2 linked regions of the Homo sapiens genome follow. The protein of the gene in region 2 interacts with the protein of the main gene of each other region in a biochemical or structural test. Each region holds a gene or a part of one and is shown on either strand. Other genes may lie near its edges.

Region 1 (5,360 bases), on a different chromosome or scaffold from region 2:
TTATTCACAAGAACCATGCTCATTCTTCTTTATTATACCACTTTCCCCAACATTGAGAGGCAATGTATCACTTAAACATGCAAATATATGAAGCATTTATTTATTGTTTTCATTTCCCTTCTTCAGCATACACACTTTTTGTGCCTTCAGCAATACTTTCCTTATTGTCAAAGTTTCTATTCCTAACAAAATTTACATTTTTATGGTAGTTTACAAATATAAAACTACTTTCACATATATTATTCATTTCACCTTAAAAGTGTCTGGTTCAGTAGACTAGACAAGACATTAAAGTCATTCTTCATTGTAATATTCTCATTTTGGTGATAAAGAAATGAAAGATCAAGCAGAAAGGACTGCTCCCAAATTTCAGAAAGTGACAGAGCTTAAGACTGGAACATAAGTCCTCCTGTAGCAAGGCCAGTGCTCTGTGCATTAAACAGCCTCCTGCATAGATCTCCAAAGGCATTGGTTCTGAGGTAGGTTGCTGCCAGCCCCTTCACCTCATTCATATATTTCCTGAGCATTTAAGTGTTGGTTTAGATAAAGGGGCATAATGAGTCAACACCAGATAGCAATCTGCTCCAACTGACCAGGTGGTTAGGGCAAATTATTACAAACTTCATCATTTAGGACTGACAGTCATCACATAAGGACATAAATAAGACAGAAAAAGAGTCATAAGTTATTATCATAAGTTATTTATGATAATAGACAAAAGTGTACGAAAACAAGCCTCCAGTGACAAAGGGAAGCATGATGAAGTCAGTAAACCTTCCTCCTCAACCACTGTCTACACCCCTATGTGCCAGGCCAGCTGCCCTGGCCATTGAAGGTCCATTACGGACCATTAAAGTGCCTGGAGACTATCCCCTGGCCTCAACTGGCACAGCCATGGTCCTCAGTCAAATCCACTAGCACTAACATGTGATTAAGACAGCCTGGGTAAATCTCTCATTAGGAGAGGAGGTAGCTAGGCAAACAGCTGCTACTTCTCTACATTTTATTCATTATTCAGTACCCCAAGATATTTCTTATAGCAACTCTTCCTAATATCCCATGTTGCTCAGATATACATAATAAATTTAGGCAGCAGAGGTTAGAGGATCAAAATTAAAAATAAAATCACCATCATCTCTTGAGGTTTTCAAAAATAGTAGAGTTAGTAGGTTTTGTCTGTGTCAATATCATTTACCACAGCTTACTTTACCCTTTGCTTTCTATTAAAAATAAATAAATGCATACATGCAAACACCTATACATGCATACATGTATAAATTCTGTCATGATATCTGAAAACCAAGCAGTTATCTAAGATAGTCTCTTGCATTCACAGACATATTATCACCTTATATGCAGACTACTATTCTAATCAAATCCAATCACTAAGTCAGGTTTATATTTGGAAATATTGTTTCAGAAATTTGGAATACAAGCCAAAAATTTTTTAATCTTAAATAATAATTATATAGATTACTGTTAAGGAAAATGATATATATATAGTATACATTAATATATGATACATATATAGTAAGAACACTAACCTATACATTAAAATCTTTAATTTGAGCTCAAGTTCTTCCTACCTGTATGACTTTGGGCAACTTACGTCAAATGAAGGGGTCATTAATTTCTAAGATCTTTTTTAACACCAAATTCTACAAATTTTTAATGTTAGACTAATTCAATACTGAGACAAGGAAAATAAAATAATGGAAATAATATAAATTCATGCTTTAAAGTAGTCCTTAAAGGGAAAGCCAATAAATAAACACTCTCAGATTAAAAACAGGTGATCTGTAAATGTATACAAGCCTGCCAGACACAAATTGCCTCTTTCCTCTCTTTCTCTTCCACGCTTTCCCACTTAGAGATCACCTAGTGGTCCACAACAGAGAACAATCTGATCCTACTGTCTCTTCCCCATCATCTCCCATCTTCTTTCTTCCCCATTAGAAAGATTACAAACCCTGGGCCAAGCCAATCAGCACACTAACTTCCCCTCAGTCAGAGCCTTAGATTCAATGGTTGGAAACAAGATCAGTGGATTCAAGCACTGTAAACCTTAGAGCCTTATCAGGTGCAACCAGCAGATAATTCACATTTCCTTAAGGGACTTGAACCTGGGATCTTGTTCGGTGGGAGCTGCCACAGCCATCGTGCCTCTATATGGAGCCTAAGAAGCTCCTGGAATACCCTAGAACTAAACTAAGCAGGCAGAGAAACATCATGTCTCAGTGGAATTACGTCAACTTCTAAATCAAGCTCCACCTGAACTGTAGTTAGGAGAGACAAATAAATTCACCTTTTGTTGCAACCAGTCTGGGTTACATTTTCTGCCAAGATGCAACCAAAGAAATGTCTAATCTTTAAACATTTGTGTACATTCATTAACGAATCTTGACTCTACCAGTGACTCATATAGCCACTTGGGACAAGTTATTACTTAACCCCTCGAGGCCTTAGTTTGTAAAATGGAGATGATCCTCATCTTAAAGGATATTGTGAGGATTTAAAATTATGTAAAACACTGATCACAGGCCCTAGCAGGTCATGGGCTCTCAGTAAATTACAGCTCATATTGTTATTTTTGCAATTGCTTTAGGAAAAGCTCTCTTCTCCAACATATAAGAAAATAAATGAACCTAATTATTGCTCATAAGAATAAAAGCAGTACTAGTAAAAAAGACAAGTTCCAGAATTTGGAGTCAAACTAGAAAAAGTAACTGTGAAGTTCTTGAAGATATACGAAAGTGCCCTCTCAGAGTCTCTCCACCACTACTTCTCCTCTAACAGTGATCAGTCTCCTATTAAATCTTTCTTTAAACATTAGTGTCTAAATTAAGTACATATGGAAATACACTGATTTACAGTTCATTAATTCAATAAATTATATATTTTATATTTAAGACAATATAGGTTATGCAGACTTTTATTTACAGTATCAAAAATATAGAGAACGTTGCTATTATCCCAAACTCCAGCTTCTGATCTCATGATACAGCCAACTGTAATGGGTGAACATTAATTTTTACTTCTTGTTTTTTATTAGTCTCTGCCATAACCACGTCATTATGCCAATATTTTCTGAATCACTAGTGAATGGCAAAAACAAATATAGCAGTTGTGATTTAATCAGAGACAACACTGTTGAAACAGCTAGCACAAGTAGACACATTTAGAATAGTAAATGGATAACAAAAAACACTTACAGGCTCATTAATAAGAAGGCAATTAGGTCTTCTGGGAAAATTCATTTTCTAAAAGAATGCTAAAGCAAGCTATAAAATGCAAGTAAAATTGTGTTTTGACATGAATAGTGTACACTGTCTATTACATCATAATTTTTCTCTTGAGAAAACTGACAAGAATCTCTGTTCTTAAATATGAGCACAAAAGATAATAAAAAGAACACCAGTTATATTTAATGCATTCTACCTACCAACTCCCATTCATTAAATTTGACTGTCCTATAAATGAGCTCCTTACTACAAAGATCTTAAATTACACTTAGATGAAAAAGAGAATTATAAAGCAAGAGACTGCTACTAGTAATGTCAGAGGGAATAGTATTTCCTGTATCAACATAACATTATGCTAAAAATGATTTGCATATAGCATGTTTGGTTCCTTGAAGAGTATGTTTATCTTTAAATATTCTTATACAAAATATTCATAACCAAAACTAGTCTTACTTTTAGTCTCTTATGAAAATATTTTTTTTCAAAGTCATCTGAGCATTCTTTTAAAAAGCTTGTATAGTACTGTTGTTTTGATGTGTCTGGAATATTAAATAATAATCAAGTAAATATTGATCAGAAATATACTCCAGGGGCCGGGCATGGTGGCTCACACCTGTAATCCCAGCATTTTAGAAGGCTAAAACAGGAATATCACTTCAGCTCAGGAGTTCGTGACCAGCCTGGGCAACATGGTAAAACCCCATCTTGACTAAAAATACAAAAATTAGCTGGGCATGGTGGCGCACCTGTAATCCCAGCTACTTGGAAGCCTGAAGCAGGAGAATCTCTTGAACCCAGGAGGCAGAAGTTTCAGTGAGCCGAGATCGTGCCACTGCACTCCAGCTTGGGTGACAGGGCAAGACTCCATCTCCAAAAAAAAAAAAAGAAAGAAAGAAAGAAAGAAATAAAGAAAAAGAAAAAGAAAGGAAAAAGAAATATAAATCCAAGGAAATGTATTTCAGGTTATCATTAATCCTTTTGCAATATTCTTGAAATTCTATGGTAAAGTTCATGTGACAATCTTTTTAAACTGAGCTTTCTTTGTCCTAGAGCAGTGTTTCCCAGAATTAAATGTTCCATCAAATCACCTGGGGATTTCATCAAAATGCAGATTCTGATTCAGTAGATCTGGGGTGACTCTGATGATCACAGATCATCACAAATTTCCAGATGATGCTAATTATATTGGTCCATGAACCACAAAATCCCAGGACACCTTGCAGTGAGGAATCCAATGACCATGAAGCAATCAGTCATCAATCCCTGGGTGGGTAGTGAGGACCCTAGAAAGCCTTCCTCTCTACTCTTGAATTTACTGAATGACCTAAGAAAAATCACATCAAGGAACTGTTGCCAGTCTGTCACTTAAGCAGCTGCTAGGTCACCTCCACTATCCAACACGGATTAAGGGAATTTCTGTGGCTGGTCAGCTGCTGCCTTGAACAGCGCTTGGAGAATCGGCCTATGAGCAGCTGGTTAAGGAACAGGCTGCACTGGGAAGGGTTTATATTAATAGATACCAATCTGGAGAAAGATTTATTATTTTATCCTTAAAAGTATAACAGTATAGTATAGTATACAGTATAGATTATATACAGCTTATTTTCCACTTGTTTCTACATCTATGAAATAAAGTAGTGATCTATTTTCACTACTCTTTCCAAAAATGTTAAGTATGGAGTTTTGATACCATCTCTAGATGCCCTTACCTTCTTTCTAACCTAAATGTTTCTACAACTAAGTCCTAGCATTGTTAAGATGTGTGTGTGTGTGTGTGTGTGTGTGTGTGTATTCACACAGAGGACTACATACTTACATCTTTCACATTTCCCAACAAAATAAATACAAACAATAACTCCACTACGCACTATTTTATTTTGCCTTGTTTCTGAATTCCCCTTATTAAAACAATTCCTAGAATGACACCTGTTGGAGGATTCAGCCAGCACTGCCCTGTTCATCATTTTCATTATCAGAGCTCAATAATCATATCAAGTGGAAACACGGATTATTCCATTTAGGACAACTTAATTTGATCCTAAAACAACTGTAAGTGACAAAATAAGCCACTTGTAATTTTTATGGATTATCAACACACGAAGGAGAATGCCAAAAATT
Region 2 (5,361 bases):
CTATATGACGAAAATTCCTTCCAACTCTAATAGGCTAATTCTGTATGTTATTCTAGTGTGTACGTGACTGTATCTTGTATAGAAATCTTATTTCCCCCCAAAATTGTAACTTCTTCAAAGTCGCGGGGGTGGAGGGACATCCTTTGTTTCTATAATACTTAGGGCCATGCCAAGAAGAACTTCTTCAATTATTTCAATGTTTTTTATGAACCACCCTGGGCACATCAGGTATTCCAATTAAAGATCTCCTGCCTGACTTTAATACTTACCTTTCGCTCCTCTAACATTCTGTTTAAGGACACCAATATCTGGGCAAATGATGGCCTCTCATAAGGCTTCTCCCGCCAGCATTGTCTCATTAGATCATACCTTCGAAAGCAAAGAATTAAAGGGTTAATTCTATAACTGTGCTTCAGTCCTAGGCACGGCAGGAAAAGAGAGGAGAGAATGAAGCCACCCAATGCATGGTTATGAAGCTTAACCAAAGTACAGCCCCTAGGAAGTTTCTATGAGGACTCCCACCTCCCTAAGCCAGTCTCATTTCAACTCCTCATAGATTTAGTTCCTACCCTCGGTACTGTTTCTGCAGGACCTTGGTCTCAGCTATTGCAATCATCTAGAAAGAACTGGGTATGTGTCTAGAGCAGCATTTGCCTTGGAATGCTGCATATTTCAAAATGTTAGTGTCTCTTAAAGGGCCCATGCTCAAACTTGTAAAATGCCACCCACATAAAGTCCCTTTAAGAGGCAGGACTTTTAGAAGCACTGTCATTAAAAACAAAAAAATGCCTGTTTAACCAGGTGCTATGGACTGAATGTTCATGCCACCCAAAAATCATGTGTTGAAACCATGTGATGGTGTTTGAAGGTAGGTCCTTTGGGAGGTGATCAGGTCATGAGGGTAGAACCCTCATGAATGGGATTCGTGCTCTTACACAAAAGGCCTCAAAGAGCTCTTTTGCCCCTAGTGCCACGTGAGGACACAGCAGAAAGATGGCCATCTATGAGCTAGGAAATGGCTCATGGCCACCAAATCTGCTAGCGCTTTGATCTTGGATTTCCCAGCCTTCAGAACTGTGAGAAATACATCTCTGTTGTTTATAAGCCACCATGTTTATGGTATGTTGTTACAGCAGCCGGAAATGACTAAGACAACAGGTTTAACACAAAGTTTCCAAAGTAATTGACCGCAGAACTCCTTTCCCCTTGCATCATGTATTTATATCTTGCACAACACGTGAAAACATAGTTTGGGAAACACTGACCTAAGACAGTGCTTACTCAGTTGTGCTCAGAACTACTCTGTTATTAAAATGCAGAATTCTGGAACCTGCCCTAAACTTACAGAATCAATGACTGACAGTGGGGACCAAGAGCCCACATGCTGAACAAATGACTCTGGGGAACCTTATGTGCATGGAAGGCTATCAACCATTGGCTTAGGGTGTCACAGATCCCAGAACAGCTTACACTTTAACATAAGTTTCTTAAAGACTAAAAAATCTTCTCACCCCTTATGAAGTGAATCTCAAAAGGTGGAATTTTAGGGACTGTCTAGTGATGGTCAACTATGTCCAGGTTTTTCCAGGATGGTATGTATGCTTCTTGCTCCAGTGAGATTAACACCCTCCTTCACTCTTAGAAGTAGCTCCATTTAGACAATAAATTATCTGCTCAACCTAGAGCCTTGCAGTCTTCAAACATGCCAGTTAGCTTCTACCACGGATAGTTCTGGGAATGCTGGTATCACTACAGTTCATTATTCTTACCCTTGGAATAAATCTTACTTTTGAAAGTAATCTTAGCAGAAGCAAGGTTCTAGGCAAGAAAATGTATCTTTATTTTTTTATTATTATACTTTCAGTTCTGGGATACATGTGGAGAACATGCAGGTTTGTTACATATGTATACAAGTGCCATGGTGGTTTGCTGCACCCATCAACCTGTCATCTACATTAGGTATTTCTCCTAATGCTATCCCTCCCCTAGCCCCCACCCCCCGATAGGCGTGTGATATTCCCCTCCCTGTGTCCATGTGTTCTCATCCTTAAACTCCAACTTATGAGTGAGAACATGCAATGTTTGGTCTTCTGTTCTTGTGCTAGTTTCCTGAGAATGTTGGTTTCCAGCTTCATCCATGTCCGTCCAAAGGACAAGAACTCATCCTTTCTTATGGCTGCATAGTATTCCATGGTGTATATGTGCCACGTTTTCTTTATCCAGTTTATCATTGATGGGCATTTGGGTTGGTTCCAAGTCTTTGCTATTGTGAACAGTGCTGCAATAAACATACGTGTGCATGTGTCTTTATAGTAGAATGATTTATAATCCTGTGGGTATATTCCCAGTAATGGGATGGCTGGGTCAAATGGTATTTCTAATTCTAGATCCCTGAGGAATCGCCACACTGACTTCCACAATGGTTGAGCTAATTTACACTCCCACCAACAGTGTAAAAGCATTCCTATTTCTCCACATCCTCTCCAGCATCTGTCATTTCCTGACTTTTTAATGATTGCTATTCTAACTGGTGTGAAATGGCATCTCATTGTGGTTTTGATATGCATTTCTCTAATGACCAGTGATGATGAGCTTTTTTCATGTTTGTTGTCTGCATAAATATCTTCTTTTGAGAAGTGTCTGTCCATATCCTTTGCCCACTTTTTGATGGGGTTGTTTTTTTCTTGTAAATTTGTTGAAGTGCTTTGTAGATTCTGGATATTAGCCCTTTGTCAGAAGGATAGATTGCAAAAATTTTCTCCCATTCTGTAGGTTGCCTGTTCACTCTGATGGTGGTTTCTTTTGCTGTGCAGAAGGTCTTTAGTTTAATTAGATCCCATTTGTCAATTTTGGCTTTTGTTGCCATCGCTTTTGGTGTTTTAGTCATGAAGTCTTTGCCCATGCCTATGTCCTGAATGGTATTGCCCAGGTTTTCTTCTAGGGTTTTTATGGTTTTAGATTTTACGTTTGTCTTTAATCCATCTCGAGTTAATTTTTTATAAGGTGTAAGGAAGGGGTCCAATTTCAGTTTTCTGCATATGGCTAGCCAGTTTTCCCAACGCCATTTATTAAATAGGGAATCCTTTCCCCATTGCTTGTTTTTGTCAGGTTTGTCAAAGATGAGATGGTTGTAGATGTGTGGTGTTATTCCTGAGGCCTCTGTCTTGTTCCTTTGGTCTATATATCTGTTTTAGTACCAGTACCATCCTGTTTTGGTTATTGTAGCCTTGTAGTATAGTTTGAAGTCAGGTAGCTTGATGCCTCCAGTTTTGTTCTTTTTGCTTAGGATTGTCTTGGCTATGCAGGCTCTTTTTTGGTTCCATATGAAATTTAAAGCAGTTTTATCTAATTCTGTGAAGAAAGTCAATGGTAGCTTGATGGGGATAACACTGGGCAGTGTGGCCATTTTCACAATATTGATTCTTCCTGTCCATGAGCATGGAATGTTTTTCCATTTGTTTGTGTCCTCTCTTATTTCCTTGAGCAGTGGTTTGTAGTTCTCCTTGAAGAGGTCCTTCACATCCCTTGTAAGTTGGATTCCTAGATATTTTATTCTCTTTGTAGCAGTTGTGAATGAGAGTTCACTCATGGTTTGGCTCTCTGTTTGTCTGCTATTGGTGTATAGGAATGCTTGTGATTTTTGCACACTGATTTTGTATCCTGAGACTTTGCTGAAGTTGCTTATCAGCTTAAAGAGATTTTGGGCTGAGACAATGGGGTTTTCTAGAAATACAATCATGTCATCTGCAGACAGAGACAGTTTGACTTCCTCTCTTCCTATTTGAATGCCCTTTCTTTCTTTCTCTTGCCTGACTGCCCTGGCCAGAACTTTCAATCCTACGTTGAACAGGAGGGGCGAGAGAGGGCATCCTTGTCTTATGCCGGTTTTCAAAGGGAATGCTTCCAGCTTTTGTCCATTCAGTGTGATACTGGCTGTGGGTTTGTCATAAACAGCTCTTAATATTTTGAGATACGTTCCATCAATACCTAGTTTACTGAGCGTGTTTAGCCTGAGGGGGTGTTGAATTTCCTTGAAGGCTTTTCTCCATCTATTGAGATACATGTGGTTTTTTTCATTGGTTCTGTTTAGATGATGGATTATGTTTATTGATTTGCATATGTTGAACCAGCCTTGCATCCCAAGGATGAAGCAGACTTGATCATGGTGGATAAGCTTTTTGATGTGCTGCTGGATTCTGTTTCCCAGTATTTTATTGAGAATTTTCGCATCAATGTTCATCAGGGATATTGGCCTGAAGTTTTCTTTTTTGTTGTGTCTCTGCCAGGTTTGGGTAACAGGATGATGCTGACCTCATAAAATGAGTTAGGAAAGATCCCTCTTTTTCTATTGTTTGGAATAGTTGCAGAAGGAATGGTACCAGCTCCTCTTTGTACCTGTGGTAGAATTCAGCTGTGGATCCGTCTGGTCCTGGACTTTTTTTGGTAGGTAAGCTATTAATTCTGCCTCAATTTCAGAACTTGTTACTGGTCTTCGACTGGGATTCGACTTCTTCCTGGTTTAAACATAGGAGGATGTATGTGTCCATGAATTTATCCATTTCTTCTAGATGTTCTAGTTTATTTGCGTAGAGGTGTTTATAGTATTCTCTGATGGTAGTTTGTATTTCTGTGGGATCAGTGGTGATATCCCCTTTATCATTTTTGTTGCATCTATTTGATTGTTCTCTCTCTTCTTCATTAGTCTGGCTAGCAGTCTATTTTGTTATCTTTTCAAAAAACTAGCTCCTGGATTCACTGATTTTTTTTGAAGGGTTTTTCATGTCCCTGTCTCCTTCAATGCTGCTCTGATCTTAGTTATTTCTTGCCTTCTGCTAGTTTTTGCATTTGTTTGCTGTTGCTTCTCTAGTTCTTTTAATTGTGATGTTAGGGTGTCAATTTTAGATCTTTCCTGCTTTCTCCTGTGGGCATTTAGAGCTATAAATTTCCCTCTACACACTGCTTTAAATGTGTCCCAGAGATTCTGGTATGTTGTGTCTTTGTTCTCACTGGTTTCAGAGAACATCTTTATTTCTGCCTTCATTTCGTTATTTACCCAGTAGTCATTCAGGAGCAGGTTGTTCAGTTTCCATGTAGTTGTGTGGTTTTCAGTGAGTTTCTTAATCCTGAGTTCTACTTTGATTGCACTGTGGTCTAAGAAACTGTTATGATTTCCGTTTTTTCGCATTTGCTTAGGAATGTTTTACTTCCAGTTATGTGGTCAGCTTTAAGTGTGATGAGGTGCTGAGAAGAATGTATATTCTGTTGATTTGGGGTGGAGAGTTCTGTAGATGTCTATTAGGTCTACTTGGTCCAGAGCTGAATTCAAGTCCTGAATATCCTTGTTAATCTTCTGTCTCGTTG

What was found. Proteins that work in one complex are often made in the same cells at the same time.
Region 1: of the proteins of TEK (region 2) and PTPRK, one has a biochemical effect on the other in vitro, tested with the Homo sapiens proteins (one large-scale study listed by IntAct).

What each region holds. Positions count from the first base shown.
Region 1 is NC_000006.12:128,509,370-128,514,729, forward strand, and holds part of PTPRK (receptor-type tyrosine-protein phosphatase kappa isoform b precursor), read right to left. Parts: intron 1-5,360. UniProt on the Homo sapiens protein: Regulation of processes involving cell contact and adhesion such as growth control, tumor invasion, and metastasis. Negative regulator of EGFR signaling pathway. Forms complexes with beta-catenin and gamma-catenin/plakoglobin.
Region 2 is NC_000009.12:27,223,214-27,228,574, reverse strand, and holds part of TEK (angiopoietin-1 receptor isoform 1 precursor), read right to left. Parts: intron 370-5,361; coding exon 270-369; intron 1-269. UniProt on the Homo sapiens protein: Tyrosine-protein kinase that acts as a cell-surface receptor for ANGPT1, ANGPT2 and ANGPT4 and regulates angiogenesis, endothelial cell survival, proliferation, migration, adhesion and cell spreading, reorganization of the actin cytoskeleton, but also maintenance of vascular quiescence.